7 linked regions of the Homo sapiens genome follow. The protein of the gene in region 2 purifies or fractionates together with the protein of the main gene of each other region. This does not show direct contact. Each region holds a gene or a part of one and is shown on either strand. Other genes may lie near its edges.

Region 1 (3,964 bases), on a different chromosome or scaffold from region 2:
TAGAGCCAACGTAAATTTTCAATGGAACCTGTCCAAAGGTCTTTGTGACTTCCTCCTAGATAATGTGGCAGGCTGGGAGAAGAATAAGCAGGCAAGCGGGGGTGATTTTGGATTGAGGACTGAAATATAAGAAGCCCAACACATTGAAACAAAGGATTCTGGGATCCCAGACAGAATGGAAATGGCCAGCAACTTACATGCCCCAAGTGGAGAAACAGAGTCACAGAGGGGCTGAAGGATTGGAACAGCAAGTGCTTAAGGGACCAGGGTCCTCAGCGATGGTTAAAATCCAGAGCAGTATGTGGGTAGTATCAGCTAAGTAGGCTGAAGTCCGAGTTCAAGATCTCAAAGGTTTAGTCTTGTTCAAGACTGAACAAGTCCAAGATGTTAGTTGAAGCAAAGTGGAAACTGAGGCTACTGGGATAGATGTTGAGGAACTTCAAGGTCAAAGAATTAAGAGAGCTTCAACACAAAACCCAAAGTCACTGGCAAGAGACAAAGCAGAGAAGAGAATGAAGCTGGCTGCTCACGTTTTTTGTTTGTTTATCCCTTTTTTGGGGCATCAAGTGAAGAGATCCCCACTGTACCTGGGTGTACATCAGAATTGCCCAGAGAGTTCTGTTCCTTCTCTTCATCGTCTCCTGCTGCTCCTCCTTTTGGGGTTTGTTTTTAAAGTAGGGATTTTTAGGTCTTACTCCCCCACCCTGCCCCAGCCCCCAATGATTCTAATTTGGTATATCTGAGAGAGTCTAAAGACCAAGTTTTTCAAAATGTCCCAGGTGATTCTGAGGAGCCCCCAGGTTTGGGAAGCACTGGACCAGAAGATAAGAAGGAGGGTAGGGGCACAAGCAGATAGCACTACCTTCCGAGAGGAGACTTGGTTGGTGATGGTGCATTGGTTTGGAGGCAGCACTAAGGAGAAGCGGAAGAGCATCCCTACTCTGGTGAGACGGTGGAGGACACTAGAGAAGGCTCTTCTGCGGCAAGTTGTTCACTCAGGCTCTGGTGCTCGGGAGAGAAGGTGGGTTCAGCTACATAAAAAATGAAAATGCAAGAGTGTGGCTGCAGGATACAAGAAACAAGACATTTAAAGCCAGGTCGGAGTGACACAGCCTAGTGGCCTGCAGAGAGAGGAGGCTGAATAATGCGCTAATAACGTTTCCAAGCACCATGTAGTGTGGCTCATTAAATGGTTGGTAGGGCTTCATGGTTGAATTCCTGGACACTAAGTATTTTTCTATCCGTATGCTATCAGATTTCTAACATGTAACACATTAAAGGTTATTAAGCCCTCAGGTAAACAAGCTTGCAGAAGCTTATTCATTAGCATTGGAAACTGTGTCTTCCCAACCCACGTTCTTATACAGATGAAATCAGATTCGAATGAAAATCAAGGGTAGCTTTAAGTAGAAAGTCAGAAGGGGCAACCAGGGGTACCTGTGAGAGGGTACGTCCTCCATTCCCCTCCGTGGAAGAGGGAAGTTTATAGACAGTGGATATGGAAGGGGGCCTAAGTGTCCTTTTTAGTACCAGTCAACGCTAAAAATATTATAAGTGCCAAGGAACCCGCCCCCCCCAACACACACACACACACATACACACACGCGCATTCAGTGACAGGGCCCAGAAGGCAGATACAATGTGCAAATCTGGGGATGGTTCTCAATAAAGAATATATTTACTCTACAAACCTCTTATTTTAAAAGCAAGTTGCAAATGTTTGCCCTTGCTTCTGAGAGAGCTGCACTTTTGTGGATTCGAATCATTCTAGCATTATTTCTGGTTACTCCTATGAAATAATTTCCAACACTGCCGTACGCAGACTTTGAGCTGAGGACGAGAGCGCACGCGCACACACGCACACACACACACGCGCGCACACACACACATAAACCTCGTGCACATTGAAGAAATGACTCACTTAATTTGCTGCTGCCTGCCACGATTGGGTTTTGATTTTACCTGTTCAAATACAAAGTTTCCTATTAGATTAACTACAGGAAAGAAGAACTTAGGAGCATTAATCCTGATTTTGTTCATGTCTTTAGGGCACCAAAGAGGTTTTAACCTGTGCATCTTAAGAAGCCATTCTCCGGACCACCGACTGCTTGCTCCATAATCTTCCAGACAACGATAACATTTCTTACCACTTTAGGAGCCAATTAATGGAAACCCCTCCTAGAATAAACATGGTTAAGCTTTGCATCTCCGGTACCTGCAGAACCGTACTTTAGGGCTCTTTCTCAGCTCGCAGTAGGATGGCACAACAGCATTCTGGAACTGCAAAGACCCCCTAGCCTCTCGTTTGAAAGATGAGAAAAAGCGAAGGGGCGGAAGAGCAGATGGTTAACCTACCCAAGGTCACTCACTCTGAGTAGTGGGTCGGCTGACTCGCCTTTACCCCTGGCAATCCGTGCACCACCCCAGCTCCCCCAAACAGTCCCTCCGGGCGTCGGTTGGTTCGCTAGCATGCAGCCCCCGCGAAAATGCAACGCCAGTTGCGCTCTGTGCCCAACTTCAGCCCTTCGCGTCACATGCAGTTAACCCTCTCGCCCGCGGCATGTCACATGGGCCACGCGCAGCTCTCTCTACCCCACGCCTATCTCCTGAGAGGCTGCCCCAAGGTCACCGGCCGTCCCAGAGAGCTCCCGCCGCCCAGCCCCAGAGGCCGCCCGGCCGGGGTTCCCAGAGCGCGGCACTCACCGGCGCGGGGGGTGGGCGCGCCGCGGCTGCCCATGTCCTCGCCGGCGCGGCTGGGTGCGGCGGCCGCTGGCGCTGGCTGAGCAGGGCGCCCGGCTGCGGGCCCGCGCCGCGGGGAGCGCCGTCCAATCAGCGCGCGCCTGCCGCCTGGCCCGGCGCGCGGCCCGGCCGGGTTCGCGGCTCCCGGGGGGCGCGAGCCGCCGCGCGCCGCCGGAGCCGCTTCCGGGCGCGTTGCCTGGACGCGGTTGCCGTGGCAGCCCGAGCTGGAGGCTTTCCCCGCGCACCCGCGCCCAGCCTGGCGGCGCCGCCCCTCCTCCCTCCTCGTTCCCACACCCAAAATAGCCTCTGCTCGTCGCTGCTGTTTCCCACAGAGCTCGCATCCAAGCGCCTTGGAGTTGGCGGGCGGGGATTTCGCTCATTGGAAAATAAATCCTGTTGTAGGGATGGTTGATTTGGAGAGGTGTTGAAATGGTGCCTGACGGAGATCATAGCCATGGTGGTGGCACTGCAATTCTCTCTAGAGCCCCAATATACCTTATTTACTAAACCGCTTTCCCACAAAAATAGTTCTCTCCCCCGCCCCACCTCAAATTGGGGAGAAGTTATTTGATTAGGCCACGGTGACGCCCCACCTGTGCAGGTGAACGAACCCTCCGGGGCTGCCATGTGTCATTTACTGAATCGCCTTGACACCTGCAGTTGGGACCCAGGATCGTGTCTCATCGCAGCAGACACGACGAGAAGAAGAACCCCGAACACCCCTCCTCTTCCCAGCCCTTTCTTCTCCCGTCAGCTTCATCCCCTCCCAGCGCGTCCTGGCTCTTTCCACCTTCCTCTCGATTTTGGATTCTCATCAGGACGCACAAGCCCATTCACTCATAATTGTGCTTCCTCTCGGTGGGCAGGATTTCAGCGGAGTTGCGGGGGACACGACCTTTGCCTCATCTGGTTCGTGCCTCCTTCGCAGATACTGGTACTTACCCAGCACAGGGGCTCCTGTCTGTCTCCCCCACCCCGCCCCAGCCTGAGCCCTTCCAACCCAGGGGAAGGAGCCCGACATGGTAGAAGAGCCCGAACTGTGGATTCGGCTGAGCGGTTTTGGAATTCTCTCTCCGGCAGCATTATTATTTAGGGGCTATTAGTATTAAGGACTGTTATTTGTGTGTGATCTTTGAAATATTTGTGGGTATTCTGCGACTGTTTCCTCACCAGTAAAACGGGCTAATAACTTCCACAAAGCGCTAACGCATCTGTAACATTCATT
Region 2 (2,748 bases):
CTTGAACTAAAATTTGAAGGAAAGGAAGTTTTTCCAGATGACCAAAGGTCATGCATGGCTGTTCCTCAAACTCACCTGCCATTGTGGTAGTGGGTGGCAGGCCACTTGATTCTGTACAAAGAATCAATGCACATTTGGGATTTTTTTAAAAAATTAAAACCCCTTAAAATGGTAAATATAAAATTATTTTTATCCACTTCTTTATAACCTCATTTCATGTGGTGTTCAGATCCCTGCGCTTCTGGCGTCTATCTAGTCTACTGAGGGTACCAAAGCCTCATATCAGAGGCATGTACACTTAGTTATTATTTCTGGGTTGTAGGGAGGAATATGTAAAGAGGTTAGAGAAAACAAACAAGAGAAGGAGGAAGAATTATGAGAAAAGAAAGAAAAGTTGGGGGCGGAAGATGAAATAGAAAGAAGAGGAAGAAAAGCCTTCTCAGTCCAGGAAATCTCTGTATTTCACATCTAGCTTCCTTGAAGGAGCTGGACATGAAGATTCATGAGCCCAGAGGGGAGGTACAGCACCAAGTCTTGATGTCAAAGAACCGGTGGGCTACACCCTCACGTATCTGCTTAGTCTTCACACCATAGACAATGGGGTTCAGCATTGGTGGCACTGCCACATAAAGATTGGCCAGCAAGATATGGACATGTTGAGGAATATTACGCCCAAAATGATGGGTCAATAAGGTAAAGAAGGATGGAACATAAAACATAAGGATGACACAGAGGTGGGAGCCACAAGTGCTGAGGGCCTTGTGCCGAGCATCCTGGGAGGGCAAACGAAACACTGCTCGGAGGATCAGTGAGTAAGACACAGCGATGAGGATAACATCCAAGATGACCATGACAATGGGCACTGAGAAGCCATACCAAATGTTAACAGTGATGTCAGCACAGGCTAAACGAGCCACTCCAATATGCTCACAGTAGGAGTGAGGAACAATGTTGGTTAGGCAGAAGGGCAGCCGCTTCAGCAAGAATATGACTGGGAAGATGATGCAGAAGCTTCGGGTGATGACGGCCAGAGCAATCCTCCCCACAACAGGCCATGTTAGCACTGTTGTATATCTCAGTGGGGCACAAATGGCCACAAAGCGATCAAAGGCCATGGCTAACAGGATAGCTGACTCCCCCACAAACATCATATGGACAAAGAAGCCTTGGGTGACACAGGCATCAAAAGCAATGTTATGTGCTTGAAGCCAAAAGATGGCTAGGGCCTTGGGCACAGTGGTGGTAGACAGCAGGATGTCCATGACGGCCAGCATTGAGAGGAAGAAATACATGGGCACATGAAGGTTACGTTCCATGACAATAACCACTATCAGGATGCTGTTTCCCAGGACTGCAGTGATGTAAATGAGGCAAAGAGGTATTGACAGCCAAATGTGATAAGCCTCCAACCCAGGGATGCCAGGAAGGACAAAAACTGCAGGATGGAAGATGGTAACATTGGTGTGACTCATGATGCACTTTATGGTCCTCTCTATAATGACTTAGAAGCTGATGAGTCTACTGAAAGTGATAGAAACAGAAAGCACTCCCGAATATGTATAAATATCATAAAAGACAGCATGGATTTCTAAATTGCTGGACTCTCCAGCAGCAAGTACTCCCAGAGAATGTTCACTTGGTATAGGAATGGCTTCTGGCCCATAGTGCTTCCTTTGCAGATAGAGCTTCTGTGGCAATAATGCTTCAAGTATGAACAGAAGTGGCAGCACCTTCCTGCAACCACCCTGCCCCCAGAGTTTGGCCTCACTCTCCCTTTCTGACCTCATTCTACTATTTCCACACAAGCAGCATTTTCCACCTACCTGTGTTGTACTTGTCCCTTTCCCCAAGATTTTGTTCTGCATTTACCTTTAATTTCCCTCCCCTTCTACTTCTGTTTAACAAAATTTTAACCTTAAAATAAGTCCTCAAGACATACCACTTTGTAATGGTCTGTGTTCATAGCAATATATCTCCTTCCTAAAAAACTATTAACTAAACTATATTTTAACTGGGTTATATTTAATCCTATTAAGTTTATCTGGCTATTGCCTTGAACATTTCACAGGACACTTGCACCTCTGGCCCCTTGTGCAAGGGAGTAGAGTATCAAGTGGGAATCCAGAGGAAGCCTAGAGGGGTACATTTCTCCACTCTGATCCAGATTCATATCTTCCCTAATGCAGTGAGCAATGGGGCAGCCAATGAAACTGAGACAGGCAATTTTCATCACCAGCTCCTCATGGACTTCTCATGCTCCTCCTCAAATATTTCTATACAGGAGCCTCTTGGTTATGTCTGGGCTTCCTTATCTGTAGAAGCCCCCCAGGAAAACGATTCTGAGCAAAAGAAATCAATCTATTGCCCACCTGTAAACTCTGCTGACTCCACTAATACTGCCCTTCTTCCCACCCCACTGTTCCCCAACGCTCAGAAGGAACCATGTTTCCCTGCTGCCAAGAAGGATTAAGTATAGAGCCCTTCTTGGCTTGCCTGCCACTCAGGTAATATTTGTTTCATTCTGAAGTTCTGAACTATCTGTCAGCTATTAGGACTAGGGAAAGAGTGTATGATTAAGAATCTAGAAGGGAACATGAAGAAAAGGGACCACAGAGACAGTAAAGAGAGAATCAGAACTATAAAGGTACCAAATAAACACTAGACTGATCTTCTGATAATGGTATTCAGAGGGCCCCAAAGAAGAGATGCAAAGGAATCAAATCCTCAGTTTATTAGTCCATCCCTCTG
Region 3 (3,500 bases), on a different chromosome or scaffold from region 2:
ATTATGCCCCAGAATATAATTTATTATTCAAGGGCAGAGCTGGGCGTATAGATGCTTATTTTCCAGTCTGCTATCACTGAACTAGATATGAAAGCTACTTACTGCATATGATCTCGAAACCATCCCAGAAATCCCGAACTTTCACATCGGAAATTATAGCACAGTTCCTGCAGTTCACCAAGTCTACATCCTGGTCTCCAAATTCCTGGCTAAAGGCTTCTGGCTTCCAGAGCTCAGACTTGAGCTTTTTATGTACCCCCGAAACCAGCACTGGCTGTGGAAACAAAAATATCCCAATCAGAGCAATCTAGGAAAAACTTCCAGCTCTAGGGCTGAGACAGAATAGGAGGGTTTCCTGAGGAGGGCCTCCTCTTCTCCAGGAAGCTCTACTGTTCTTTCCTAGTTGTATAATCCATGGATTTCCACATGTCAACTAAAGTGAAAGGAAATGCTTCTACTCCATTGTTATGCTTCATTCTCACCCTGGGGAAATCACTTCTGTTGCCCTAATACCTACCATTGTTTTAAGGTGAAAGGACAAAAATCTGACAAGTCCAACTTTGAGAACACTTCCTCATATTGAAAATGACAATGCCATGAGCTCCCCTTCCTCAAGCACCTGCTAAAGTTTTTAAACTAGGGAGTGTTATCACACTATCAAAAAACTTGTGTGGCCTTAAAACATTTGCCTAGAAAAGTACTACCTACCTCCAACCCCTTCTCTGCCCCATCTTAAAATCACACTTAAGGATTTTTCTCTAAAGATATCAATGCCAGATCACCACCTAACAGAAATTTCAACTGCCTTTTTAAGAACACAGAACTATACAGCTTAGAAACAAGAGGATGCAAAGTGTGTTTTTAGTAATCTCCTTGCTTTTATTTATTTATTATTTATTTATTTTTGAGGTGGAATCTTGCTCTGTAGCCCAGGCTGGAATGTAGTGGTATGATCTTGGCTCACCGCACCCTCTGCTTCCCGGGTAAAGTGATTCTCCTGCCTCACCCTCTCAAGCAGCTGGGATTACAGGCACCCACCACCATGCCCAGCTAATTTTTTTTGTATTTTTAGTAGAGACAGGATTTCACCATGTTGGCCAAACTCCTGACCTCAGATGATGCGCCTGCCTTGGCCTCCCAAAGTGCTGAGATTACAGGCGTGAGCTATAGTGCCTGGCCATCTCCTTGCTTTTAAAAATCCAAGACAACTCGAAGTAGCAAGGCTATTACAATAACCTCACTATGTCTAAATCTCCCTGGCAAAAAGAGAGACCTGGAATTGTCCAGGTATCTGTGGTAGGCAGGCAGAGAATTGGCCCTTGGAACGACTTATTCTTGCTTACCTGACCTTGCTTCCAACACTCCCGGAAGATCTTCCAATTGTTTTTGTTGCTGGGGTCATGGAGACACAGAAGCCTCCCATCACAAAGCCAGGAGTGAGAAGTATGGGGATCTAGCACATTTAACCCCATCACCATCTCCTTCACTTCCTTCTGGGTATCAGTCAAGTTGCAGGCCCGCTTTGAAGCATCTGAGGTTTTCTTATTTTCTACCACTGAGGCAATGATGTGGTCAAGAAAGTTGGGTAGGCTGGCCTTGCTCTTCACTCCCTGCCAGACACAAATCCACCAGGTAAGCTTGACTGAGGCACCATGAGAACGGCATTCAAAAAACTGTCTCACAATTGTATTCACAAGGAGTTCTGACCTGTCTGATTAAATTCTACAAAAATTATTAAAATGTCTTTTACAACTGGAAGGGGGATAATAAGTCAACATCTTAAATTCTTTTATCCTTCATATTTTACCTTAACATTTAGGAAAGAAAAGTATAGAAAGATCCCTTTTGCCTCGAGAGATCTGAGACCTAAGAAATACCTTTGGCATCAGCCATTCAGTATACAAAGCACACATGCATGTAGACTGTAGGGATCATCAAATGCTGTAACTGAGTGTAAAAAGGTCACTCAGTTTGAGGGTTCTAAATTTTTCCTAACCAGCATGCCCAAGGGATACAATACTTCAATTAAGTAACTGAAGTGACTTATCAAGGCAATGGTTTTCTACCAGGGAGTACCTCAATGAAGGGTGTAGCAGAGTGTCCAAGAGGAAGTACATTCTGAAAGCAGTCTCCTACTCTCCAATTTTTTCCTCACTACCATCCCACTGAGAATCACTCACCTGTTTCAGCTGATGGGAAAGCTCAGGCCCAGAGATGAAAGTGACATACCTAAGGTCACAGAACTGAAGGTAGGGAAGCTTTTATAAACTGGATAATCCTATGCTTACAGTATTACTAATCCCTATCTCTATAAAGTATGTATAATTATGTAACATCATGGGAGAATTAGAAAAAGAACTGGCAGTATGATGAACAAGTATACATAAAACGGTACCCAAAGTAATTGTTTTGTTTGCTTTTTAAAATTTACTTATCCAGGCTGGGCACGGTGGCTCATGCCTGTTAATCCCAGCACTTTGGGAGGCCAAGGCAGGTGGATTACCTGAGGTCAGGAGTTCGAGACCAGCCTGGCCAACATGGTGGCCAACCCTGTCTCTACTAAAAATACAAAAATTATCCCAGTGTGGTGGCACGTGCCTGTAGTCCCAGCTACTTGCTCGGGAGGCTAAGGCAGGAGATTTGCTTGAACCTGGGAAGTGGAGGCTGCAGTGAGCTGAGATCGTGCCACTGCACTCCAGCTTGGGCAACAGAGTGAGACTGTCTCAAAAAAAAAAGTTACTTATCCAAAAGAGAAACAAATAACCCAAATTGTATAGAGGGCTCAGTCACCCACAGTTCATCACGTTTCAGCCATTAGTCATAAAACCCAAGAAGAAATGTATTTATGTATTCGCTTGAAATGATTTGCAGGACATATAAACTAAAAATCAGAATAGCAAGGTGTAGAACATTTAGGGGAAAAACATACATATGATAATATCTCGAGAAACACTGGAGACTTCTAGAAAGGGAAACAGGTGGTTGGGAGGCAAGGGTGCAAAGGAAACTTTTCAGTCGAAACCTTTTTTATTTTATTTATTTTTTTGAGATGGATCTCCCTCTGTCACCCAGGCTGGAGTGCGGTGGTGCGATCTTGGCTCACTGCAACTTCTGCCTCCCAGGTTCAGGCGATTCTCCTGCCTCAACCTCCCGAGTAGCTGGGATTATAAGCATGTGCCATCATGCCTGGCTAATTTTTGTAGTTTTTTAGAAAGAGTCAGGATTTTGCTACGTTGGTCAGGTTAGTCTCGAACTCCTGACCTCAAGTGATCTGTCCGCCTCAGCCTCCCAAAGTGCTGGGATTACAGGTGTGAGCCACTGTGCCCAGCCTCTTTTCTATCTTTTAGATATTGTACCTTATGAATTCATTCATTCAATAAATGCTTACTAAACATGACTGGATCAAACACCATGGCACTAGGGATATATTATAGAACAGTCAAAAATGCCTTTAGGAGAGGCAAGAAACAGAAAATCAAACATGTAATAGGTCAGATGGT
Region 4 (3,500 bases), on a different chromosome or scaffold from region 2:
CAAAAAAAGTAAAGTTTCAAAAATAAAAGTATAAAGAAAGAAGACGACTATCTTAGAAATCATTTGCAGTTTTACATATAATATACACAGAAGCAAATGGTACTTTTTCAGAAATCAAAAAAACAGAAAAGTCTTACTATTCTACATGATTTAGTGCCTACTTATATGTATCTCTATAATTTGGCAATGAAATAAGACCTTAACTATTCATTAAAGATTTTTCTGGCAGTTATATTAGCCAATCTATAGATTGTGATTATTTTAGTAGGTTTTACTAGCTCTTCAATATCAAGCAAATTTGAAAATTAATTTGTAGGCCATTTTTCTGAAGAGAAAAACATTCATCTAAAAATGGAATATTTAAAAATCAACGTATAATATTTTTACATAGTTTTATTTTTAAATTAAATGGTGGTTCTCTAATAAACAAAAGACCTAAATTTTATTTTAATACTACTAATAACTTAGGCCAACCACGGTGGCTCACGTTTGTAATCCCAGCACTTTGAGAGGCCGAGGCGGGTGGATTGCTTGAGCTCAGGTATTCGAGATCAGCCTGGGTAACATGAGGAAGCCCCATTTCTACAAAAGATATAAAAAAATAGCCCTGCATGGTAGTACACACCTGTAGTCCCAGCTACTTGGGTGGCTAAGGCAGGTGGATCGCTTGAGCCTGGGAGGTCAAGGCTGCACTGAGCCAAGATCATGATACTGCACTCCAGCCTGGGTGAAAAAGGGAGACCCTATCCCAAAAAAAAGCACTAAAACCCTAACTGAAGAAAGACAGATAAAAAAGTGTTTGTTTACTGCAACTATAACATTAAAAAGGACACTTGGGGAAAAGCCATCTTGAGAAACAAGGCTTGAAAAACAAATCATTCCTCAATACAGATGTATCATTTCAGAGAACACAGAATTTTCAAAATAAAATCCACAATCTGGCCGGCCATTGTGGCTCACGCCTGTAATCCCAGAACTTTGGGAGGCCGAGGCGGGCGGATCACGAGGTCAGGAGATGGAGACCATCCTGGCTAACAAGGTGAAACCCCATCTCTACTAAAAACAAAAAAAATTAGCTGGGCTTGGTGGCACGAGCCACCCAGCTACTCAGGAGGCTGAGGCAGGAGAATCGCTTGAACCTGGGAGGCGGAGGTTGCAGTGAGCCAAGATCGTGCCACTGCACTCCAGGCTGGCGGACAGAGCGAGACTCCATCTCAAAAAAATAATAATAAAATAAAAATAAAATCCACAATCTTAATTATTACAGCATTTTACACTTTATACGGTTTTAAGGGTTTAAAGATCCAAAAATTCAATTCATTTATTCTGGAAAGTCAAACTTCAAAAAGACAGGTGGGCAAAACAAATCTTATACTCTTACATCACATCTACTTAAATAATTGGTAATTTGTAAAAACTGAAGAGAAAAGATCAAAAAGTACTCTAACAAACACTGCCTATCAGCCCAACTCTTGCCATTCATTCATACTTCCATCTCAGGTAATTTCTGCCAATGGCCAAAAAAAACCTTAATTCCTTCTCATGGCAATGAGTTAGGCTGGCACCACTGGTTAGATGTTTATTATTATTATTGTTCATGCATGTGTGTGATGGTGTGGCATGATTTAGTTGGGGAGGAGGAGTACTACAAACTAACATAACGCTGAATTTTCTCTCAAGAGAAAAAACCTGCTCTGCTTTCACATTTACATCAGTGCATAATTAGTTGTTTAATTATAGCTTATGATTCAGATAAAGGCCCAGTTTCAGACTCTTTAAATATCATTGATTTTTCGAAGAAATCAAATAATCCATTGAGAAATTAAACTAACTTTTGAAATCATAGGATCATAATAAATGCTAATATCACTTCCTGGTTGGATGCCACTGTCCACTCGGACCTGGGAGAAAAAAAGAAAAAAAGAAAAGTAATTCATATTGTGTAGATATTTTTTTGTAACCACCAATTTCATTTCCATGGAGAAAATGGATAGAGAATTTCAATCTCAAATAACATTTCAACTTCTGGAAAATAGGAAAACAATCTAAAATCTTGATCCGTTAATATGTAATGCAACACATTTTTTGTTCTGCCACTGAATGACGAAACTAAAAAACAGCAAAAATAAAAAATAAAAAATGAAGACTTCCTACATCACTATGCCAGGATGCTGTGGCTCTCTGATGGTGTCTTCCAGCTGAAGCATGGCATGGACGATGCCCTTGCTAACTGCACTCCCTGCCAGACCCTTCTGAGCCCACCAGTGAGGCCCCTCGTCAAGCCTGGTCCTCAGCTCCATAGGAATGTGGGCCTGGGCCTTTCATGTCTGTAACACTTTCCTTTTCTGCCTCACCCTCTCAACTGTAAAACACTATTTTTCTGTTACTGTTGCTCCCCTGAGGCTTTCATGTTTACACAGCTTTTCCTATGGCTTTGCTTTGTAAAGCCCCAATTAGAGTTCTGATTTTGTGATTTTCTTGGGGTGGGGGGTAGGGGGATAGCACAAGTTCAAAATATTCTTTTGAAGAGGCTGATTGCTGTTAACCAGCCAACGAGTGAGTTAGTACATCACTGATTCTTGTTTTCATTTCCCAGTTTGATACCAGCAGCAAGGCACGGAGGTTAGCCATGCAAAACTTTAAAAATGAGCAGTTACTGAGGACAGAACATTTATTAAATTATTAGAAAGAAGTTTTGGAATCTGAAGTATTTAAAAGCTAATCAAAATACTTCAGACTGTCAGGCACATCCTAGGGGTCTTGAGGATGGAGGAACTGAATCAAAGCTGCTGGAACAGCAGGACTTTGATGCCCAACATTGTAAAGGGGTGGGAAGAGAAGAGCGGAAGCTCACGTAGCCTTCCACCTGTGGGAAGAAGCCTTCCTAATAAACAGCAGCTCATCTGTCTGCAGCAAGGCAGAAAAAGGTCAACACAGCGGCTGTTAGGCCTTTAATATTTTAATTTAGGCAATTATCAAGGGACCACATGTAGAACCTCTTGTCTAGGATATCCACATGAGGGTATAATGATGGCTTTATTATACGGTGACATCAGAAGACAAGCGATAGTTTCATTTTCTTAAAATTCACACTACTATTATTCTCTTTGTAAGGTTGTAAAAGGAACACTATAACATACCTGAAGGGCTTTTATTTCTGTATTTGCAAGCACAAACAAAAATATAGATATCTGTATTCGTATTCACATTCATATACAAAAATCTTAATTATAAACAAAAATCATTCAGCACACTTACGAAATATACTTGGCTTTCTATTTTCTGAAAACATATTTCAGGACATAAACTGATGTTCTATGAAATTCACAGTGTTGACAAAAACTAGAAAAAAATTAATGGAGCAGCTTTAAAAGCAATAAAATCACAATCTACCTTTTCCCCACATTAAAGAGCCCCAAAATGGCAACTAGTAAACGGGTTACATAACAGAAAATATATCTGTGAGTTTTCATTTTCTTAATTTTAGTACTAAAAAGTGA
Region 5 (4,141 bases), on a different chromosome or scaffold from region 2:
GGAAAGGAAAGCCAAGCCACATCTGTAATCCCAGCACTTTGAGAGGCCAAGGTGGGAGGACTGTTTGAGGCCAGCAGTTTGAGACCAGCCTGGCCAACAAAGTGAGAACCCACCTCTAAAATACACACACACACACACAAACACACACACACACACACACACACACACGCTCCCTCTCCCTCTCCCTCTCTCTCTCCCTCTCCCTCTCAAGTCAGCTCAGACTAGCAGACTGCTTCTCCACAATTCAGAAGGAAAACCCACACTCAGAAAGCTAAACACATACACAAGCTTGGGGCCCACATTCTTGCTGTTGGGCAACAACCTTTAGAGTGAGACAGTCCCTGGTGACAGAGGGCAGGGGCACCTGAGGAGCCAAAGGAATGAACTCAGCGAGCTCCACACATTCCCTCACCCCTGGTGACAGGGAAATCGCCCCTTCAATTGTTGTAAGTGAGGAAACTCTCAACTGGACTGAGATTAAGGTTCTGACCCAAATGAACTCCCCAGTTCATTCATCCTGTGTCCAGGAGACAGATCTCCTGGCCTTTACAGACTTTCTCACTATAGAAAAATTACACTGAGTGCACCTACACAACAGATGCAAAACTCAAACCTAATGTCTAAAAATAGGCCCAAGGAAACCACAATTATGCCCTCAGGAAGGGCATCACTGGATTCAGCCAATCCCCCAACGTGCATTCAGATCCCCAGCTTTCCAGTGCTCAGCAGCTTCTCTCAGTACAAAGGGCTCCTTCCACAGTAGGTATGAGCAGGTAGGACACCTGCAGGGGAGGCTCCCTAGGAAGAAACAACTGGGCCTTCGATTACATCCCTTGGGAGACCCAAGGGTTGGTCTTAGAGCTTGGAGTCACTGACCTGAGTCCTCTTTGCTCTCCAGTCAAGTGACCTGGACCACTACTGATATTTACATGAGACAAACCCTGTGTTTGAAGAAATCAAAGGGGAGGCTGAGGCAGGTGGATAACCTGAGCCCAGAATGGAATTCCATTTGAAATCACCGAAAAGGAAAGAACAGACCTGAGGAACTTGCTATACATTCTCAGAAGAAAAAAAGAGAAACAAAAATTTTTAATAAATGCAATATCATACTGGGATATTTCATTATTATTATTTTCTGTTTTTGAGACAAGGTGTGAGACCTTGCTCAGCCTGGAGTGCAGTGGCATGATCAAGGCTCAAAGCAGCCTCAACTTCCCAGGCTCAAGCAATCCTCCCGCCTCGGCCTCCCAAGTAGCTGGGACTACAAGTGCAGGCCATTACGCCCAGCTAATTTTTTTTTTTTTTTTTTTTTTTTCTAGTAGAGATGAGGTCTCTCTATGTCACCTAGGCTGGTCTTGAACTCCTGAGCTCAAGCGATCCTCCTGACTCAGCCTCCCAAAGTGCTGAGATTACAGGCGTGAGCCAACGCTCCTAGCTTGATATTTTATTATTTTCTGAAACCCATCTCTTTCTTGCCTCTTTGGAAATATTTTACATCCACTCTAAAGGTTTATTTTATTTTATTTTTTTATTTTTTTGAGACAGAGTCTCACTCTGTCGCCGAGGCTGTAGTGCAGTGGCGCAATCTCATCTCAACTGCAACCTCTGCCTCCCGGGTTCAAGTGATTCTCCTGCCTCAGCCTCCTGAGTAGCCGTGATTACAGATGTGCACCACCACGCCCGGCTAATTTTTTATATTTTTAGTAGAGACGGGGTTTCGCCATGTTGGCTGGGCTGTAGGTCTCCTAATTACGTATATTTTACATTTTTTGAGAATCAATTAAGTGAGTAAATCTTTTCAAGGTGATAAGCCCAGGGAGGGGAAGTGCTGCGCTGGAAAGGACAGATCTCCCAGAAAAGTTTCCAAAAAGGAGACTCAACCCAAAGGAGTTCCCATAGGATGTCAGGTCCCAGGAGAGATACTGGCAAGAGAGGCACAAGCATTTTACACGAGGTAGCTTCAAGTCCTTCTCCTCTGTTTTCCTCTCATATAAATACCCCAAAGCATACGTTAAATCTTTTTAAAAGAACCATCCATTCCTCTGTACAAAAAGGATAATTAAAATACTGCGTCTGGTTGAAATAACGACGTTGTGAACTGGAGAGAAGACATTGGCATTTGAAAGAGATCTAGAAATTTAGGGATTTAATCCCAGCTCTGGGAAGAGCCAGGCTGGAGGACACGGTCGTGGGTTTGAGATCTGGCTTCCCATACACTTGGAAACCTTGAGAAACGAGTCCTCCCTTGGGAAGAAAAGAGGGACTGAGGACCCCACACAACACTGCTCCTCCCACGCACGAACCCCACGACCGAGACGGGATTCCCTCCATGACCCTCCCGTGCCCCAGCACAATCTGGGGAGACGCGAGGCTGCGGGCTCGGAGCTGCCCAGAGAGGGCTCCGGGACTGGGGCCGCAGTCGCCGCGCAGGGACTTGACAAGACGTCCGGGGTCCCGGCTGCCGGCCCAGCCCCATCCTGCGGCCAAAGAGACCGAGGGCCGAGCTGCGCCAGGAGGACTCGGGTCCACAGACCCGGGAGACAACGGCGGGGAGGCCTGGGTCCCACCACAGCCAGATCCGGCCGGTTTCAACCCGCCCCTCTCTCCCATCTCAAGACCCCCAGCCCCGCACACTTACCATTTCCCAGACTCTGGGATGTCCTGGTGTTCTGTTTACCTCTCCCGCGGCCAGCACAGGTCCTACCTCCACCTGAGGCCCTTCCTCCACCTGAGGGCCTTCTGGGGTGAGGAGACCCCAGAGCGGAGCGCAGCGGCTGGTAGCCACGCCCTCGCCGTTTGCGCAGCGCCCCTCCGCCCGCCTTCCCGGCGGCGCCCCTGATTGGACATTGCACTCTTGGACCCGCCTTCGTTGCCTGAGTGACAGCTAGTAGGGAAGTCGCGTCTCTAAGCAACCTGCATTCGTCCGGGGTCAGGAATCTGTTCCCCTGCCACGGATATTTGCGTCTAAGCAGAATTTGTTAACGTACCCGGGGTCGGGCACTGGTGTCTTCCTGCAGCTCCTTCTGAGCGCGGAGACACAAGCGTGCACAGCGCAGGAAATTCCAGGCTCAGTTTCCAGAAAAAGGCTCTTTGTCCACAGCGAAAAAGGACGCCCGGGCCATGCCAGACTAGAACGGAAGGGTCAGACGCTCCCAGACTTAGCATAAGGCTGCGAGGCCATTCATGGATTTCTGACTCTTGTTTACAAATACAGACACTTAGAGTGACAGAGTGACCTCATCATACCTAACAAAGAGTGACTACGTTTTAATCTTTGACAACTGACAGGGTTTAGGCCGTCACCCATCCCTTCCCTCCCCCCACACTTTGCTCTAGTGGGAAGTTTGGACCCCACAGCCCTAGTCTGAGAGAAGGAGTTCCTTTTTTTTTTTTTTTCGGTAGAGATGGCGGTGGTGGGGTGGTCTCACTATGTTGCACAGGCTAGTCTCGAACTCCTGGGCTCAGGTGATGCTCCTTGGCTTCCCAAAGTGTTGGGATTACAGGCATGAACCACCGTGCCCAGTGAGGAATTATTCAGTTAAACCCAAAGCCATGAGATGTGTTCAGTAAAACTGAACACTGGAAGGATATTTATTTCGGACCAGTTTTTGACTATGTCCCTAGAGAACTTTTGTGGATCCTTTATGTTTGTTTGGTTTGTGGTTTTTGTTTTTGAGACAGGGCCCTTCTTTGTCCCTCAGGCTGGAATGCAGTGGTGCAATCAGAGCCCCCTGCAGCCTCGACCTTCTGGGCTCAAGCAATCCTCCCACCTCAGCCACCTGAGTAGCTGGAACCTCAGGCACGTGCCACCATGCTTGACTAATTTCTTTCTTTCTTTTTATTTTTATTTTGTAGAAACAGCATCTCACTATCTCACCCAGGCTGATCTTGAACTCCTGGGCTCAAGTGATCTGCTGGCCTCAGCCTCCCAAAGTGTTAGGATTACAGGCATGAGCCACTGCACCCAGCCCCTAGAGAATTTTGAAATGTAAATGGCTATGATATCGATAAGGCAATTAATTCCATTTTCACTGAGATTATTTAAAAAACCACAAAAGATTATGTAAATTTGGCATGTACTAGGAAACTCAATATACTTAAGATATTGGATCAAACCTACTAATGGGCAGGGCATGATGGC
Region 6 (3,959 bases), on a different chromosome or scaffold from region 2:
CAGCTGTGCTTGCTTAGAGAGAAAAAGGCTAAATATCAGTAACCACAAAGGAGAACTTAGCTCAGCAGTGCTACCCAGGCCTGAATCCTTGCTTCATTACCATATTAAAATCTCCACCTAGAAGGGAGAAATACACTTGCTAGGCACATATAGTGCTGGGTACAAAAGAAACAATGAGACTGGCCAGGCGCGGTGGCTCACGTCTGTAATCCCAGCACTTTGGGAGGCCAAGGCGGGTGGATCACCTGAGGTCAGGAGTTCAAGACCCTCCTGACCAACATGGAGAAACCCCGTCTCTATTAAAAATACTAAATTAGCCAGGCATGTGGTACATGCCTGTAATCCCAGCTATTTGGGGGGCTGAGACAGGAGAACTGCTTGAACCTGGGAGGCGGAGGTTGCGGTGAGCCAAGATCAAGCCATTGCACTCCAGCCTGGGCAACAAGAGCAAAACTCCATCGCAAAAGAAAAAAAAAGAAAGAAAGAAAGAAAAAAGAATGAGACTGAGCACACTCCAGTTCTTCCCATAGGGCCCCACCTCTTTCCAGGATCTCTGCCCCACTACATGCCCTAAGAGACCTTAAAAATCCCTCTTCACCACACCCAGAGGAGGGTACTTTGAGCATGAGCTTTTCCTTCTCCATTCCTTCATCAACAAATAAAGTTTCTGCACTGCTTAACGAAACTTGGTCTCATTTTATTGGCATGAACACCACCAGGCAGGTAAAGGACCCACTGAAGTCAAACGACTTCCCTTGAGAGTTGGTAACAGTAGCATTACAAGTCAGTGGGAAAAATTAAACTAGTCAATGAATTGTGTTGGGACAATTGGCTAGGCAAATAAAAATAGTAAGTAAAATCACACAAAAAATAAAGAAACTTAAAAAACAAAGCTAAAAGGCTGGGTGCGGTGGCTCACGCCTGTAATCCCAGCTCTTTGGGAGGCCAAGGTGGGTGGATCACAAGGTCAGGAGTTCAAGACCAACCTAACCAAGATGGTGAAATCCCATCTCTACTTTAAAAAAAAAAAAAGCCAGATGTGGTGGCAGGCGCCTGTAATCTCAGATACTCGGGAGGCTGAGGCAGAGAATTGCTTGAACCCAGGAGGCAGAGGCTGCAGTGATCCAAGATTGTGCCACTGCACTCCAGCCTGGGTGACACAGAGTGAGACTCTGTCTCAAAAAAAAAAAAGAAAAAAACCATAAAGACTCTAAGAACCCTGGTGTAACCAAGAATTTCTTAAGACAACAAAATGAAAAGAGTGAATATATTTGAATACATCAATATGAAAAAAATCTCTGTCCAAAAGAAAAGCAAAAGAAAAAAACACCAAACACAAACCACTAATAGATGTGGAAATGTAATAGCCAACAGGAAGGATAGTTTGAAAGTCCACAGTAAAACTAAAAAGACATATTCCTTACGCTACAGGAATTTAACTTGTAAGAATCTGCCCTGAAAAACACTTGCACGGGTATTCAGACATTTACACAGGTATTTACTAAAATATTCTCTGTAATAACATAATACTGGATTTAACCTACTTGTCCATCAATATGGCTAAATAAAAGTAGCATTTTTATAGGATGAAATACCATACAGCACCTAAAAGGAACATACTAGATCCTTATGCATCACCATGACTGTTCCACTATTCACCAGGTGGCCAGGCTGTGCTGCCAAGATTAAAAGGCCATCCAAGGAAGGGATAGCACATGATTTGAGGTCGCTGAGGACAGATACCAACCACATCAGGCCCCAAGAGGTACAGCGTATACTTACAGCAAAAGGAGAAACAGGGAACAAGATCCAGCCTCCTGCAATGCAAAGAGCCCCCACACCCAGCAGATCCACTCCACAGCTATAGGGCTGGTGTGATGCACACACCCCACTTAGTAAGGAAGAAAGATCTCAATCCACCCTCCCCACTCCTATGGGGTGTGAAATACAGAAGGCTGAGAGAATGAATGAAGGCCACTGACTTAAGAGATTAAACACAACAAAGGAGTACACATGAAGCCTGAAACACTGAAAGACACAAGGCATTAAATGCAGCAGCACAGGCTGTGAGGGCTCTAACTCTGCAAGGAAATGTTCCAGGCTCAAGGTCACTCTTACATTCTTAACTTGGCAATGGGCTATTTAAAAAAAAAAAAAAGACATTAAAAACTGTCAATTCTTCTTGTCTCCCAGTTTAGATATTCCTTCTTTCATTAATTTAACAAACACCTTCTAGGAGCACCTACTATTTCCCATACACTAAGGTAACAGCAGTTAATAAAGCAAACAGAAAGCACTGCCCTGGCAAGGGGCTTATGGGAAGATAACCAATAAACAAATACATGCTATGTTAGACGGCGACAGGTGCCAGGAAGTGAAATAAGACAAGAAAAAGGGAGAAGTCTATGCCAGATGTTTTCAATGTCAGGAGACCTGGAGACTAAGATTTCCGGACGGTGGCTACTTTCACTTTTCTTCCACTTATCTAATTGTCTCTAATAAGTACGCTTTATTCGCATAATTGGGTGAAAAGATAAAGCCAGAAGAAACCGGGAATTTTCCAGATTCTCTGCCCCAGACGCCCGGGGGGCGAAGAGGTATGCCCTCGGCGCGGCCGGGCGGGATCCACGGCCAGACCCCCGCCCCGGGTGCAGCCTCCAGGCCCGGCCTCACCTGCCACTCTCGCACGCACAGCCGCCCCCGCTCCGCACCCCGCGCCCCGCCGGGCCGCTCACCGACTCCGCCGCCGAGAGACAATCATCCAAACGCCGCCACCGCAGCCGACCGCCCCGCGCCTACCTCCCAGCTTCCCCAGTTGCGCACGCGCGTCGCCTCCCCGGGCCCTCTGCGGCCTCTCTAGGAAACTGGGAGGGCCAACATCTCTGCTTCTCCCTGGGCCCAGGGCCGCTGGCGGCGGGCGGCGGGCGGCGGGCGGCGGGCGGCGGGCGGCGGGCGGCGGGGCTTGTCCAGCATCCTTCGCCTCCTTCCGCGGACACTTGTCTTCCACGCTCTGATGCCCAGGCGCGCTCCAGAACTCTATCGGCTTTGGCGTATTATCCTACATCCCTCCCATCGGTTCTGCACGGCTGCCCTGGAGGCCTCTTTTCCTTCAGGGAAGAAAGGGATCCAAAGCTAGCGGTGAAAATAGAGCCAGCGGCCTGGCGCGGTGGCTCACGCCTGTAATCCCAGAACTTTGGGAAGCCGAGGTGGGCGGATCACGAGGTCAGGAGATCGGTGGCTAACACGGTGAAACCCCGTGTCTACTAAAAATAAAAAAAAAGTAGCTGGGTGTGGTGGCGCGGCGCCTGTAATCGCAGCTACTTCGGCGGCTGAGGCAGGAGAATCGTTTGAACCTGGGAGGCGGAGGTTGCAGTGAGCCGAGATCGTGCCACTGCACTCCAGCCTGGGAGACAGAGCCAGACTCCGTCTCAAAAAACAAACAAACAAAAAAATAGGGCCAGCACATCCCCAAACATAAAACCCTTGAATGGAGAAATTCCCAAACAAGGCAATAAGCCCAGCACTGGCCGTGAGAGTTTATTATCCCCTTTTAAGTAAATGCTACAAGCCCTAGGCGCACTTTTGCAACTGTTCAAGGGTCATCAGGCTGCACATGACTGACCAAGACACTCAGTTGCCCACTTTGGATGGAGCTACAGCTTTGTGGGAAAAACAGATAATAGAAATTACACAAATACATCAATGTCAAGTGGTTACGAACACTGTTGAAATGTAACAGAGTTATTTAATTGACAGCGACTGATGATAATGCTTGTATTTTTTCTGGTACTTTTCTGTATACTTCCGGTAGCTCATAACACACTGGCTGCCATGCATTGATTTGAGTTGCCCAAGGAAATAGAGTCAGTAACTGGAATAGCCACTGAATCCAAATCTTTTGGTCTTTTCACTACTGTGCTTCATAAAAGCTCTCCCGTCCCACGTCCCTGTAGAGGGAG
Region 7 (3,500 bases), on a different chromosome or scaffold from region 2:
ACCCCAAGAAACAAACCAAAAAAAAAAAAAAAAAAAAAAAAGGTGGCAGTTTTTTTCTCTTCTGAGACAACGTCGTGCTGTCACCCAGGATGGAGTGCAGTGTTGGAATCTCAGCTCACTCAGCCTCAACCTCCCAGGCTGAAGCAATCCTCCCACCTCTCAGCCTCCTGAGTAGCTGGGACCACCAGTGTACACCATCAGGCCTGGCTAATTTTTGCATTCTTGTAGAGGCCAAGTCGGGGCAGGGGGTTTCACCATGTTGCCCGGGCTGGTGTCAGACTCCTGAGCTCAAGTAATCTCCCACCTTGGCCTCCCAAAGCACTGGGATTACAGGTATGAGCACCCGGCCAAAAGAGAAGGCAGTTTCCAAGTGCTCCTTAATTTTTCGAGTTAAGGAAAAAACACACATATCACCCTAATTTCCCAAATTTCCTAGAGGAAAAACGGTAAAAGGAAAGAGACATACATAGGGTTCAGAGCAGGGCTTCGAGTCAGAGCTCTGAGTGTCTGGCAGTAACTCCCACAGGAAGCTCTAATGATTCCCAGGGATGCTAAAGGAGCAGCCACACCTAAAACTCACCACACTGCTATGAAAGGGGCTGGACGCATTGGCTCATGCCTGTAATCCCAGAACTTTGGGAGGCCAACCTGGGAGGATCACTTGAGGCCAGGAGTTTAAGACCAGCCTGGGCAACACAGCGATACCCACATTACTACAAAAAAATGAAAGTATCAGCCAGGCATAGTGGCGCACACCTGTGGTCCAAGCTCCTCGGGAAGCTAAGGTGAGAGGATCGCTTGAACCCAGGATTTTGAGGCTGCAGTGAGTTGTGATCATACCACTACACTCCAGCCTGAGCAACAGAGCAAGACCCTGTCTCTAAAAAAAAAGAAAAAAAGAAGAGAGGGAAGGAACTAGATCAACCCCCTTCACACATCCTGAAAGACAGGCAGGAAGGCACCAAACGCCAGGAAAGTGTGGTCTTACCCCGACTTTCCGCAGTAGGTCTCCCACAATGTTGAGGGCTGATATCCGGGCCGCAGGTGTGAGGGGGGTCCCCCCGGTGGAGTCGTCCAGGCCTGGGTGTGCAAAGGGAAGAGCATGTAACTCACCAACCTATAGTCATGTCTGTGCGTTAACATCGCTAGATCCAAAACCACGGGACAGGAGGGACACTGACGCCTTTCCTCGGATCCCAAAAGCTACCCTATTTCTTTCCGTAGTTAACCGCATCACACACCCAAGGCCCGTATGACAACCAATTTTTCAAGTCCTTGTGATGACTGCAACAAATACTTATTTTTACATGTTAGTCTTGCTCTGTCACCCGGACTGGAGTGCGGTGATGTGATCTCAGCTCACTGCAACCTCCGCCTCCCAGGTTCAAGCGATTCTCCTGCCTTGGCCTCTTGAGTAGCTGGGATTATAGCCATGTGCCACCACACCCGGCTAATTTTTGTATTTTTAGTAGAGACAGAGTTCCATCACGTTGTCCAGGCTGGTCTCGAACTCTTGACCTCAAATGATCTGCCCGCCTTGGCCTCCAAAAGTGCTGGGATTACGGGCGTGAGCCACCATGCCTGGCCTTTAACAAATTTTTTTTTTAATAGAGACAGGGTCTCACTATGTTGCCCAGGCTGATCATGAACTCCTAGTTTCAAGCGATCCTCCCACCTTGGCCGCCCAAAGGGCTGGTATTTACAGGCATGAGCCACCGTGCCCAGCCACATTAGTCTTTTTAAACAAACCCAAAACAAATCCTTTTGAAATTGTAGAAAATCCATATAGTTAATTAACATAATGGCATCTGTGATAGATACAAGAACTATAGACAGGATGATCCAGCTTTACAAGGGTCCCGCTCTGCAGAGCCTCTCTTCTCCAAGTGGGGTCCATGCACCAGCAGCACATGAGAACTGTTAGAAATGCAGAATCTCTCGGCCAGGCACAGTAGCTCACACCTGTAATCCCAGTGCTTTCAGAGGCCGAGGCAGTTCGATCAGTTGAGGTCAGGAGTTCAAGACCAGCCTGGCCAACATGGCAAAATCTTGTTTCTACTAAAAATACAAAATTAGCTGGGCATGGTAACAGGTGCCTGCCTGTAATCCCAGCTACTCGGGAGGCTGAGGCATGAGAATCGCTTGAATCCAGGAGGCAGAGGCTGCAGTGAGCCAAGATCAATGCCGCTGCACTCCAGCCTGGCCGACAGAGCAAGACTTTGTCTCAAAAAAAAAAAAAAAGAGAGAAAGAAATTTCAGGCCCCACCCAAGACCCACTTGATCTGAGGTACATTCTACCAAGATCCCCAGGTAAGCTACATGCATATTGAAGTGTGGAAACATAGCCAGGCATGGAGTTGCATGCCTCTAGTCCCAGCTACTCAGGAGGCTGAGGCAGGAGGATCACTGGAGCCCAGGAGTTGGAGGCTGCAGTGAGCTATGATTGCACCACTGCACTCCAGCCTGGGCCACAGACCAAGACTGTGTCTCTAAAAACAACAATGAAATAAAGTATGCAAAATGGCTCTAGACTGGGGCTAGGCACAGTGACTCATACATGTAATACCACCACTTTCAGGGGCTGAGGCAGGCAGATCACCTGAGGTCAGTAGTTTGAGACCAGCCCGGCCAACATGGTGAAACCCCATCTCTACTAAAAATACAAGATTAGCCAGGCATGGTGGTGGGCACCTGTAATTCAAGCTTACTCAGGAGGCTGAGGCAGGAGAATCACTTGAACCTGGGAGGAGGGGGTTACAGCGAGCCAATATCGCACCATTGCACTCCAGCCTGGGCAACAGAGCAAAACTCCATCTCAACAAAACTAAACAGAAGGGCTCTGCACCGGAATTCTAGAAGTCTCACTGGTCTCTTCATGCCCAGGGGACAAGCTAAGGGATAAGGTAGTAGATGGTAGGGTAAGCCCTGGAGCCTGCCTGCCTGGGTCTGAATCCCAAACCATCTGCCATTCAATTGCTTCATGACTCTGCTTAACTCAGAGCCTCACTTTCATCAAACGGGGACAGCACCTGCATCCTGGGCCTGCGGCGAAGGCTGCAGGCTGGCCAGCACACACTGAGCACTCCTTAACTGTCTGTTATTAATATCTGCTGTAAAAGGCCTGATCGGAAGCTGTCAGCAGAGGGGCTGGGGTGAGAACTGAGATTCTTTTTTTCTGCCCATGCAGCACACGTTACGCTGAGTCTAGCTCTCGGTGGATGTATTACTAAACCCACAGAACGCTTTTTACTTTTTTGTATTTGGTCAGTGACATTTCAAATTTGGGAGGTTTTATATTCAACAAGAGGATTTTTGACCAGGCGCGGTGGCTCACACCTGTAATCCCAGCACTTTGGGATCAGCCGAGGTGGGCGGATCACTTGAGTCCAGGAATTTGATACCAGCCTGGGCGACATGGCAAGACTGTGTCTCCACCTAAAATACAAAAGTTAGCCAGGTGCCTTTAGTCCCAGCTACTCCGGAGGATGAGGTGGGAGAAT

The links.
Region 1: the proteins of OR52B2 (region 2) and FAM81A purify together in Homo sapiens (affinity purification with mass spectrometry; one large-scale study listed by BioGRID and IntAct). This does not show direct contact.
Region 3: the proteins of OR52B2 (region 2) and KDM3B purify together in Homo sapiens (affinity purification with mass spectrometry; one large-scale study listed by BioGRID and IntAct). This does not show direct contact.
Region 4: the proteins of OR52B2 (region 2) and PCCA purify together in Homo sapiens (affinity purification with mass spectrometry; one large-scale study listed by BioGRID and IntAct). This does not show direct contact.
Region 5: the proteins of OR52B2 (region 2) and ZNF709 purify together in Homo sapiens (affinity purification with mass spectrometry; one large-scale study listed by BioGRID and IntAct). This does not show direct contact.
Region 6: the proteins of OR52B2 (region 2) and ZNF852 purify together in Homo sapiens (affinity purification with mass spectrometry; one large-scale study listed by BioGRID and IntAct). This does not show direct contact.
Region 7: the proteins of OR52B2 (region 2) and NDE1 purify together in Homo sapiens (affinity purification with mass spectrometry; one large-scale study listed by BioGRID and IntAct). This does not show direct contact.

Annotation. Positions count from the first base shown.
Region 1 is NC_000015.10:59,437,022-59,440,985, reverse strand, and holds the start of FAM81A (protein FAM81A), read right to left. Parts: upstream 2,801-3,964; 5' UTR 2,704-2,800; exon of another isoform or gene 2,356-2,703; intron 2,331-2,355; exon of another isoform or gene 1,922-2,330; intron 1,032-1,921; exon of another isoform or gene 863-1,031; intron 1-862.
Region 2 is NC_000011.10:6,168,855-6,171,602, forward strand, and holds OR52B2 (olfactory receptor 52B2), read right to left. Parts: upstream 1,473-2,748; coding exon 501-1,472; downstream 1-500. UniProt on the Homo sapiens protein: Odorant receptor.
Region 3 is NC_000005.10:138,422,185-138,425,684, reverse strand, and holds part of KDM3B (lysine-specific demethylase 3B), read right to left. Parts: intron 1,611-3,500; coding exon 1,344-1,610; intron 275-1,343; coding exon 103-274; intron 1-102. UniProt on the Homo sapiens protein: Histone demethylase that specifically demethylates 'Lys-9' of histone H3, thereby playing a central role in histone code. Demethylation of Lys residue generates formaldehyde and succinate. May have tumor suppressor activity.
Region 4 is NC_000013.11:100,305,593-100,309,092, reverse strand, and holds part of PCCA (propionyl-CoA carboxylase alpha chain, mitochondrial isoform a precursor), read right to left. Parts: intron 3,343-3,500; exon of another isoform or gene 3,259-3,342; intron 1,902-3,258; coding exon 1,833-1,901; intron 1-1,832. UniProt on the Homo sapiens protein: This is one of the 2 subunits of the biotin-dependent propionyl-CoA carboxylase (PCC), a mitochondrial enzyme involved in the catabolism of odd chain fatty acids, branched-chain amino acids isoleucine, threonine, methionine, and valine and other metabolites.
Region 5 is NC_000019.10:12,482,017-12,486,157, forward strand, and holds the start of ZNF709 (zinc finger protein 709), read right to left. Parts: upstream 2,801-4,141; 5' UTR 2,642-2,800; coding exon 2,639-2,641; intron 1-2,638.
Region 6 is NC_000003.12:44,507,818-44,511,776, forward strand, and holds the start of ZNF852 (zinc finger protein 852), read right to left. Parts: upstream 2,801-3,959; 5' UTR 2,736-2,800; intron 1-2,735. UniProt on the Homo sapiens protein: May be involved in transcriptional regulation.
Region 7 is NC_000016.10:15,691,745-15,695,244, reverse strand, and holds part of NDE1 (nuclear distribution protein nudE homolog 1), read right to left. Parts: intron 3,436-3,500; coding exon of another isoform or gene 3,377-3,435; exon of another isoform or gene 3,079-3,376; intron 1,081-3,078; coding exon 989-1,080; intron 1-988. UniProt on the Homo sapiens protein: Required for centrosome duplication and formation and function of the mitotic spindle. Essential for the development of the cerebral cortex.